3 linked regions of the Homo sapiens genome follow. The protein of the gene in region 3 purifies or fractionates together with the protein of the main gene of each other region. This does not show direct contact. Each region holds a gene or a part of one and is shown on either strand. Other genes may lie near its edges.

Region 1 (2,927 bases), on a different chromosome or scaffold from region 3:
ATCTTTTGAACCCAGGAGGTGGAGGTTGCAGTGAGCTGAGATCGCACCACTCCAGCCTGGGCGACAAAGTGAGACTCTGTCTCAAAAGAAATTCGGAGAGATTTAAAGTAACCTTTTATTTTTTGAGACAGAGTCCCGCTCTGTCACCCAGGCTGGAGTACAGTGGTGCAATCTCGGCTCACTGCAACCTCCGCCTCCCGAGATCAAGTGATTCTCCTGCCTCAGCCTCCCAAGTAGCTGGGATTACAGGCATGCACCACCATGCCCTGCTAATTTTTATATTTTTAGTAAGAGACGGGGTTTAGCCATGTTGGCCAGGCTAGTCTCGAATGCCTGACCTCAGGTGATGCACCCATCTTGACCTCCCACAGTGCTGTGATTACAGGCGTGAGCTACCACGCCCAGCCTAAACTAACCTTTTACAAAGATCTAATCTTCCATCTCATTTTTGTGCTTAGACTTTTGAAATCTTTTAATTCAAGAAGTCCAGGAGTCCTGAGGAAAAAAAATGACAATGTGCTTTTATTTTTTTTCTTGTTAAAAAAAAACAACATTGGTAAATCGTTTTCATTAAATAGACCTTTGTGATTTTACTGATTTACATGAGTGGCACTAAATTACATGATTTATAAGGCTTGACACAGGAAGGATACACTGAGGTATATGGTAAGAAAAGGGATATGAATACTAGAGAAATGTTAAATTGATAACTAAGGCACACTTTCGGATGTGAATCATAAATCTACCACTGTGGCTAGAACAGCCTATATGTACATGGATTCTGAAAGACATGATCAGTTGCTGGTAAAAGTAGAGAGGGCCTGGGCTTCTGCCAGTCCCCTGGTACTTCCCACACCACTTCAGAGAAAAAGCATCATGACACAAGCACAGTAGATGGTAGAGGCCCCCAGCACTGAGTCAGGTGAAGCTACATGGTTCGCTGTTTAGTTACGTTTCCAGTACTTGGTTTAATTTCACAGTGAGGGAGTCGGTTGGTGATCTCTAAGAAATCCCCAAGCACCTGGTGTTGGGAAAGTCCCTCAAATAAAGAAGTGTTCTTTTCTTTTTTTTTCCTCTCTCTCTCTTTCTATTTATTTATTTTTTGAGATGGAGTCTTGCTCTGTCACCCAGACTGGAGTGCAGTGGCAGGATCTCAGCTCACTGCAACCTCCACCTCCTGGGTTCAAGCGATTCTCCTGCCTCAGCCTCCCGAATAGCTGGGATTACAGACACCCACCACCACGCCCAGCTAATTTTTGTATTTTTAGTAGAGACGGGGTTTCACTATGTTTTGTCAGGCTGGTCTCGAACTCCCAACCTCAGGTGATCCACCCATCTCAGCCTCCCAAAGTGCTGAGATTACAGGCGCAAGCCGCAGCGCCCAGCCAAGAAATGTTCTTTAAACATCACAAATAAACATACTGCATCAGGGACTTGTAGGGACAAGACTGATTAACCAGGGGCTGAAATCCCCATATCAGAAACCCCAGACAGTTAAAAATAGTAAGATATCACTGTAAGAACAATTTAAAGAAAAACAAGTTTACGGCAAAACAGACTACAAATCAATTTCATTATAACTAAAACTCCTTAATTTAAAAATACAGTACTAGAAGATCATCCACCCAGAGATTTGTATTTAGTAGGACCTAGATTTGCTAGTGTTGGGGAGACACTTCATACAGTGACTGGAAAGCAGCACCAGAGATTACATAAAATGAAAATATTAGTACTGCCACAGGACTTTCAAAAAGGAGGGGGAAAATTAATGAAAGTGACATGCATCAAACAAATCAAGAGGCAGTGTTGAGGTCATCTCCACGGAGCTGTAAACTCAGAAGTGTTTCCTGGTCATATATGGTCAATTAGGGTCAAGTCTGAAATCATCTAGATAATGACCTAGTTTTCCAGCTCACTCAGAGCTAAAATCCATAACACTATCATACTTTCCTTTTAATTTATGAGATGGAGTCTTGCTCTGTCGCCCAGGTTGGAGTACAGTGGCGCCATTTCGGCTCACTGCAACCTCTGCCTTCCAGGTTCAAGCAATTCTCCTGCCTCAGCCTCCGGAGTAGCTGAGACTACAAGCGCATGCCACCACACCCAACTAATTTTCATATTTTTAGTAGAAACGGCGTTTCACCACGTTGACCAGGCTGGTCTTGAACTCCTGACCTCAGGTGATCCAGCCGCCTAAGCCTCCCAAAGTGCTGGGATTACAGGCGTGAGCCACTGCACCCAGCCATCACACTTTCTTTTTTTGTTATTGTTTTTCTTTTGTTGTTTTCCTATTTCTACCATCACACCTTCAAGGATAAATTTGCTGGTTGCATTCACATATTCATAACCAGTTCCCCTGGTTATTCCACCTATTGCAGATTAAATCACGTATATCAATCCCAACATCTTAGAGGAATACAGTCTTTTCATGTTACCCAACAGAGGGGTTGAGAGAGTGGAGGAAGGAGGCCTCTTTTAATGGGTTTTTTTTTTTTTTTTTTTGAAACGCAGTCTTGCTCTGTCACCCAGGCTGGACAGCAATGGTGTGATCCTGGCTCACTGCAACCTCCGCCTCCCAGATTCAAGCGATTCTCTTGCCTCAGCCTCCCAGGAAGCTGGGATCACAGGTGCCCACCACCACACCCGGCTATTTTTTGTATTTTTAGTAGAGGCGGGGTTTCACCGTGTTGGCCAGGCTGGTCTCGAACTCCTGACCTCAGGTGATCCACCAGCCTTGGCCTCCCAAAGTGCTGGGATTACAGGCATGTGCCACCCCACCCGGCCTTAATGGCCATTTTCTTAAAGAGAAATAGTGTTTCTTCAAAAGTCATCATCAAGCGAAGGTCTTGGCGAGGATATCTTCATGCTGGTGCAAGTGAACTGTGCCAATTCCTACAGCGGGTACTGGCAAAGGGGGCCGGCCCACC
Region 2 (3,659 bases), on a different chromosome or scaffold from region 3:
ACATTTAAGTGCATACATTAAAAAGTTTTAACTCTACCTGATAGGACATAATTTCCATTCCAATTTTATCCAGTGCAAAGTCATATGCTTGAGCCATTTTTTCTCTGAAATGAACATGAAAGACGTGGTTTTTAAATTTTTTTGTTATTAAAATTTATCTACAATTAGGCCAGACATGGTGGCTCATGCCTGTAATCCCACTGCTTTGGGAGGCCGAGGCAGAAGGATCACTTGAGACCAGGAATTCAAGACCTGCCTGTGCAACATAGCAAAACCCAGTCTCTAAAAAAATAAAAATTAAAAAAATTAGCTGGGCATGGTGGCGTGCACCTGTAATCCTAGCTACTCGGAAGGCTGAGGTGGGAGGAGTGCTTAAGCCCAGGATTTCAAGGTTACAGTGAGTTATGAATGCACCATTACACTTCAGCCTGGGTGACAGAGCAAGACCCTGTCTCTAAAAAAAATTAAAAATAAATTATTATTTGAAGATAGACGTGGTGGTTCATTCCTGGAATCCCAATGCTTTGGGAGGCTGAGGCAGGAGGATCATCTGAGGCCAGGAGTCGGAGACAAGCCTGGGCAGCACAGTGAGACCTCGTCTCTATAAATAAATAAATAATAAATGTATATATAACTAAAATGTAGCTTCTGATCACAGGATCAGAACAACACTTGAACATTCTCTATAAACATAAATTAAAGACATCTTTTAAGTATATAAAGTCGTTCTTTGATGTTAAGCTTGTCAAGATCATAAATTGTTTCCTTTATCTACTGCTTGTGAGCTTATCAAAAATAAGGCTCATGTCTTACTTATCTTTATATCATTTAAGTTGCATAATTCTATACATAGCAGATTCAAATGTGGAAATTTGTGGTTCTCTCATTAATGAGACATTAAGATCTTTAGCTCTAAAGTAAAATGTAGAAATCTGGAAAGTATAGTTTTATTAAAATGCAACTTATGTTAAAATGTAAAGGGTACATTAGGGAAAAAGAACTTCCACTTCAATATAAGACAATAAACAGACCAGGTGTGGTGGTTTATGCCTGTAATTCCAGCATTTTGGGAGGCTGAGGCAGGAGAATTGCTTGAGCTCAGTAGTTTGAGACCAGCCTAGGGACATTAACTTATGCTTGAGACCCTGCTACGTTTGGAGTCTCAAACATAAGGAGACCCCATCTCTACAAAAAAATAGAAAAAAAATCAGCCAGGTGTGGTGGCTCTTGCCTGTAGTCCCATCTACTTGGAAGGCTGAGGTGGGAGGATCACTTGAGCCCAAGAGGTTGAGGCTACAGTGAACCCGTGATTGTGCCACTGCACTCCAGCCTGTACGACAGAGCTGAAACTCTGTCTCAAAACACAAAAATCATAACAAAAAGTATAATCAGGAAAAGACAATAAAGACAGAATTTTAGTAACAGACATAACTTGCCTGTTAGTTACATAGAAAAATGGCACCTCAGAAGAAGGTCCATTATTTAGATTTGGCAAAGATGGGGAGGTGGGTATAATTCGGAGTGGGGATGGCAACTTCACAATACAATTGTCAGAGATCCCTTATATCACTACAAATGTCAGAGACCCCTTAGATCACTTAAGTAGCACATTGCATTGTGACCTCACAAAAGTGGTACTAGCACAAGTATGAAGATGGTTTTTGAAAAAATTTGACAAGTCTGTCAACAAAGTGGTTTGGTGTTGCAATTATACAGTGTTTCAGTATAGAAAGGGCTTGGGCGATTCAATTCTCCAGAGTAAGACTCATGCCAGTGACTTTCTCTGAAGCACTTTTTTCAAGGTTACTAATTCTTAGGAAATCCTGACTTTTCAAATCCTGATAATTCTTCCCACTTGGGGCTAACAGAAGGTGTGAGTTTATGTGGGATTAACTGTGTGCCTGGAGATGACTTGCATTCTTAAGATCCTGGTTTCACTTACTTGTAACTTGGTAGTTTACCCTTGGTTTCTCGGACATATGAAAGATAACACTTCCATAAATCAATGTGCAAAACCTTCATAAGGCATCTCTGAAATAGCTTTAAATACAAGAATATATTATCAGAATCCAGTTAAATAAATTTCACATGGACATAGATGAAATGGAACATTAAAAACACAAATTCAGCTCCCTTTATGAATTTATCTCTTATAAATAAAAAGCAAATAATTTCCCCATTTTCAGTTTAGATAATTAAAATGCTTCTCATGATTTGTCAGGGGAGTATAATTATTTTCTTTTCCTTTTCCAAAACTTTTATGATGAACATTTTCAAGCATATAAAAAAGCTGAATAAGTACAATTAACTTGTAAAAAATCACTATCTAGATTCAATTATTATTAACATTTTACTACATCTGTCTTATACATACTAGGTTTTAAGTTAAACTTCAATATAAAATTCAAAGTATTTGAGGACTCACCTTTTCAACCTTGTCATAATTTTTAGCTTTAATCTGAAGAGAAACAGAAAAATATAGAATTAATACTATTTTTTTAGAGCATCAGTCTGAATTTTTGACCAATTTTTAACCAACTTTGCAAATTCATCCCTATAGTTTCTTATTAATTTTTCTGTTACTTTCAAAAATAACAGAAGTGTGAAGCAAACATGGATAAAATGCATTGTAAATATACCTGTGTAAATTGAATCTATATGGATTTTCATACATTTACATATAAATTTTGTGAATTTAATAAAATTCTGTAAAAGTCATGAGATGAATACAGAAATATACACATACCCGATAGGTCTACCTGAATAGGATGTATCCACTGAAGAAAAACTTAAGGCTTTCCTTTCCCTGTATAGCTACCAGAACAATCTGAGCGGCAAAAAAGATATGCAAATTTGGACTACATATAAACATTCAGTCACACCATCAACCTAATATATTGCAGATATTGTGCTAGGCGTGGGGGCTACCACTGTGACAAGACAGGTCTGCCCCTGCCCTCATAGAGCTTACAATCTTATGGGGAAAATAAGACAACGAAGTGGAAGGTCATTGTAAGATATTATGGTTAAGTGCTAAAATGAAGAAAGTACTGGGTGCTACAGCATTTTGGAAGAGCAAAAGACTTAGACTTGGGGAATTGCAAAAGATTTCCGGGAAAAAGATAACTTTTTCTAGGAGAATCTGAGCTATTTGCTGAAGAAAGGGAAGAGTTATTCCAGGCAGGAGAAATAGCATGTGCAAAGACCAAGATTAAATACTATTAGATTTCTCTTTTCTTTGAGTATTTTCATCACAGAGTGGGTGGGGTTAGGTGCTCAACTGTGTTAATCAGCAAATCTGTTTCACCCAGATAGGTAAATAAATATTTTGGCTGATTAGAGAAGTTTTGGTCCTTTTATCTCAAGTAGTACAGTAATAGAGTAGTATTCCCAGTTTTATGGCTTAAACTACTGCAGGTGAGAATGCTGATGACAGTCTTTTTTGCTTTTGCTGATAACTTGTTCTCTTCTGGACTTTTTTATCTTGATCTTTAGAGTTCATAAATTTTAGCACACACTTAAACACAGCTCTTTGTACTTTGAAGCAGTTCAATCAAGGCTCTGGAGTCAGACCTCTTAGGTTCACAATCTGGCTATCTACTTAACCTCTTTTTCCCTCAGCTGATTAAGGGGGATAATAATACCTACTTTGTCAGGGC
Region 3 (3,659 bases):
AAAGCAATTACAACAAAAGCAAAAATTGACAAATGAGATATAATTAAACTAAAAAGCATCTGCACTGAAAAGGATACTATCAACACAGTAAACAGATAACCTACAGAATGGGAGAAAACTTTTGCAAACTGTGAATCTGACAAAGGTCTAATACCTGCATCTATAAAAAACTTAAACAAATTTACAAAAAAACATTAAAAAGCAGGCAAAAGACATGAACAGACACTTTCCAAAAAAGACATACATGTGGCCAACAATCGTATTTTTAAAAAGCTCCAAATCACTGATTGTTAGAGAAATGCAAATAAAAACCCCAATGAGACACCATTTCACACCAGTCAGAATGGCTATTATTAAAAAGTCAAAAAATAACAGATGCTAGCAAGGTTGTGGAGAAAATGGAACGTTTATACAGTGTTGGTGAGAGTGTAAATTAGTTCAACCATTGTAGACGACAGTGTGGTGATTCCGCACAGACCTCAAAACAGAAATACCTCCCAACCCAGCAATCCCATTACCGTACATATACCCAAATGAACAGAAATCTTTCTATTATAAAAACATGCTTGCAGCTGGGCGTGGTGGTTCATGCCTGTAATTCTAGCACTTTGGGAGGCAGAGGCGGGTGGATCACTTGAGGTCATGAGTTCGAGACCAGCCTGGCCAACATGGTGAAACCCATCTCTACTAAAAATACAAAAATTGGCCAGGTATGGTGGCACGTGCCTGTAGTACCAGATACTCATATGGCTGAGGCAGAAGACTCACTTGAACCCAGGAGGTGGAGGTTGTAGTGAGCCAAGATCATACCACTGCACTCCAGCATGGATGAAAGAGCGAGACTCTGTTTCAAAAAAAAAAAAAAAAATACACATTCACATGTATGTTCATTGTAGCACTATTCACCACAGCAAAGACATGGAATCAACCTAAATGCCCATCAGTGATAGACTGGATAAAGAAAATGTGATACACACACACTAAAGAATACTATGCAGCCAGAAAAAAAGAATGAGATCGTGTCCTTTGCAGGAACATGGATGAAGCTGGAAGCCATTACCCTTAGCAAACTAATACAGGAACAGAAAACCAAATACCACATGTTCTTTCTTATAATTGGGAGCTAAATTATGAGAACACATGGACACAAACAAGGCAAAGAGGGAAACAACACACACTGGGGCCTATCAGAGGGTAGAGGAGCAGGAGGAGGGAGGTCAGAAAAACAACTAATGGGTACTAGGCTTAACAACACAAGTTTACCTATATAACAAATCTACACATGTACCCCTGAACTTAAAATAAAAGTTAAAAAAACAAACAAAAAATAATATTTTTTTGAATACTAAAAGAATGTTTCCTCAAATGTTGGGGGGTCTTCCTAATGTAATGCCTACAGATATCAGAAACTTTTAAATTTAATATTCATCGTTACATTATTTCCCTCAGAGAACTTTGTTCTGATTATTTACATTTTTCATCAAATTTTCTGAAAACAATAACTCAATCCCTAATTTTTAGTGTTTGCTGATTTTTATGTTGTGAATATTCCAACCATAGCCAATTTCACCCTATTAACATGACATTACTAAATGCAAAGCAGAAAAAAAGACACACAATAGCCACACAATTATACAGTATCACTACCATATAGAAAAAATAGATGGAAATAACCTAAAAAGCAGATAATAAAATATATAAATATAGGGAGTGATAAGTTTTTAGTACTTATCACTTTTGGTTTTAGGCAATAGTAAAAGGTCTACTCTCTAGAATCTACAAGGAACTTAAACAAATGAGACACCATTTCACACCATGAAAAACAACTGGCTTTTGAAATTCTTAAAAATTTAATTCCTGGAGGCCTCATTATTCCTTAGTGGTTCTAGCAATCCTGCCTACATATCTGTAAGTAGTCCCTCCATTAAATTTTCTTCAAAATCCTAGCTGAGATTTGGTTTCTCTTGAGACCCTGACATTGCCCTAGTTAAGGTCTTCGTTGTTTCTCATTGTTTTTCTTCACCGTACTGCTTGAATCTAGTTGCAGCTCTCCTCCATCCACTTCAGAGAGTGATTTTACTAGAAAGTGAATGGCACTGTGCTTCTGAAACAAACATAAGTTTTAAGGATCAACAAATATAAGTTTCTGGGTTTCTTGTAACAAGTGAGGTGCCCTCTTTGTCCATATTTTAGTTATAGTAATTTTATACTATAGTTATAGTATAGTATAAAGTTATAGTAATTTAGTTATAGTAATTTTCATACTATGTACGAAATAGTAATAATTTACATAGTAAATTTCATACGATGTAATTACAAGTAAGTAAATCTCTCTTTGTTAGGAGATTGTAACCTCGAGGACAAAATTGTATCCTACTCAACTCAGAGCCTAGCATCTGGTAGATGATCAATACATATGTAGTAGAGAAGGCTTTTCATATAAAATTATTACAATGTACTTTCTAGTCAAATTTTTTTGTATTATCATTCTATGGAAAATGTCAGTGTAATTTATCTCCTGCAAACTATTTTCCTGTCTAAGTCTAATATTCTGTGACTAAGTAACATATTAGTAGAGAGTTAAAAAAAGACAACAAAAATAAACGAAAATAACCTTACTTATGAATTGAGTTTATATTGCTATTTGATTTCTTTTTCAAAACACTTTTCACCAATCCCATGTGGGCTATCTTTCCCACAAAATATTAGTCAAATCTCAATAAAGAGTACAATAAGATCTTTGAAAGTAATCTTCATAGTTCCAGAGGCATAATCAGTTTTAGTTCTGAACTGACACTTTTAAAAGTCTGAAAGATTAATTATATTTTATTTTTATTTCTATCATAATTAATTGGACTATATGTGTTATGGTTAATACTCCATGTCAACTTGGTTGAAGGATACAAAGTATTGACCCTGAGTGTGTCTGTGAGGGTGTTGTCAAAGGAGATTAACATTTGAATCAGTGGGCTAGGAAAGGGCTAGACCCACCCTTAATCTGGGTGGGCACCATCTAATCAGCTGCCAGGCGTGGCTAGAATATAAGCAGGCAAAAAAATGTGAATAGAGAGACTGATCTAACCTCCAAGCCTACATCTTTCTCCCGTGGTGGATGCTTCCTGCCCTTGAACATTGGACTCCAAATACTTCAGTTTGGGAACTCGGACTGGCTCTCCTTGCTCCTCAGCCTGCAGAAGACCTATTGTGGGACCTTGTGATCATGTGAGTTAACACTTAATAAACTCCCCCTTACATATATATATATAAAGGCTGAGGGAGAGAAGGCAGGGTGGCAGGAGTGGAGACCATGGGCATTTGAGCTACTTTCTCATGTAACTTACTTGTGCCTTCAGGACCTGCTCAAGCTGGACCACATATATACCACTTCCATTTGATGATGGAATGCTGCTGTGCAAGACCCACTTTATAGTTAGATGGGTCAGAAAGCACCCAGTTCATGATAGGCAGTTCTGGTCGCATGGTGACTTGATGACCCATAGTCAAACATTCAGTTTCCACCAAAGTCCAGTAACAGGCCAAGAGCTGTCTCTCAAAAGGAGAGTAGTTATCTGCAGAAGATGGCAGGCCCTTCCTCCAAAATCTTAGAGGCCTCTGCTGTGACTCACCTATGGGGGCCTGCCAAAGGCTCCAAACATCAT

Evidence for each region.
Region 1: the proteins of MMUT (region 3) and DHTKD1 fractionate together in Homo sapiens (co-fractionation; one large-scale study listed by BioGRID). This does not show direct contact.
Region 2: the proteins of MMUT (region 3) and CSTF3 fractionate together in Homo sapiens (co-fractionation; one large-scale study listed by BioGRID). This does not show direct contact.

The regions. Positions count from the first base shown.
Region 1 is NC_000010.11:12,120,795-12,123,721, reverse strand, and holds the end of DHTKD1 (2-oxoadipate dehydrogenase complex component E1), read right to left. Parts: coding exon 2,834-2,927; 3' UTR 501-2,833; downstream 1-500. UniProt on the Homo sapiens protein: 2-oxoadipate dehydrogenase (E1a) component of the 2-oxoadipate dehydrogenase complex (OADHC). Participates in the first step, rate limiting for the overall conversion of 2-oxoadipate (alpha-ketoadipate) to glutaryl-CoA and CO(2) catalyzed by the whole OADHC.
Region 2 is NC_000011.10:33,105,961-33,109,619, forward strand, and holds part of CSTF3 (cleavage stimulation factor subunit 3), read right to left. Parts: intron 2,459-3,659; coding exon 2,426-2,458; intron 2,041-2,425; coding exon 1,943-2,040; intron 105-1,942; coding exon 38-104; intron 1-37. UniProt on the Homo sapiens protein: One of the multiple factors required for polyadenylation and 3'-end cleavage of mammalian pre-mRNAs.
Region 3 is NC_000006.12:49,435,754-49,439,412, forward strand, and holds part of MMUT (methylmalonyl-CoA mutase, mitochondrial precursor), read right to left. Parts: intron 1-3,659. UniProt on the Homo sapiens protein: Catalyzes the reversible isomerization of methylmalonyl-CoA (MMCoA) (generated from branched-chain amino acid metabolism and degradation of dietary odd chain fatty acids and cholesterol) to succinyl-CoA (3-carboxypropionyl-CoA), a key intermediate of the tricarboxylic acid cycle.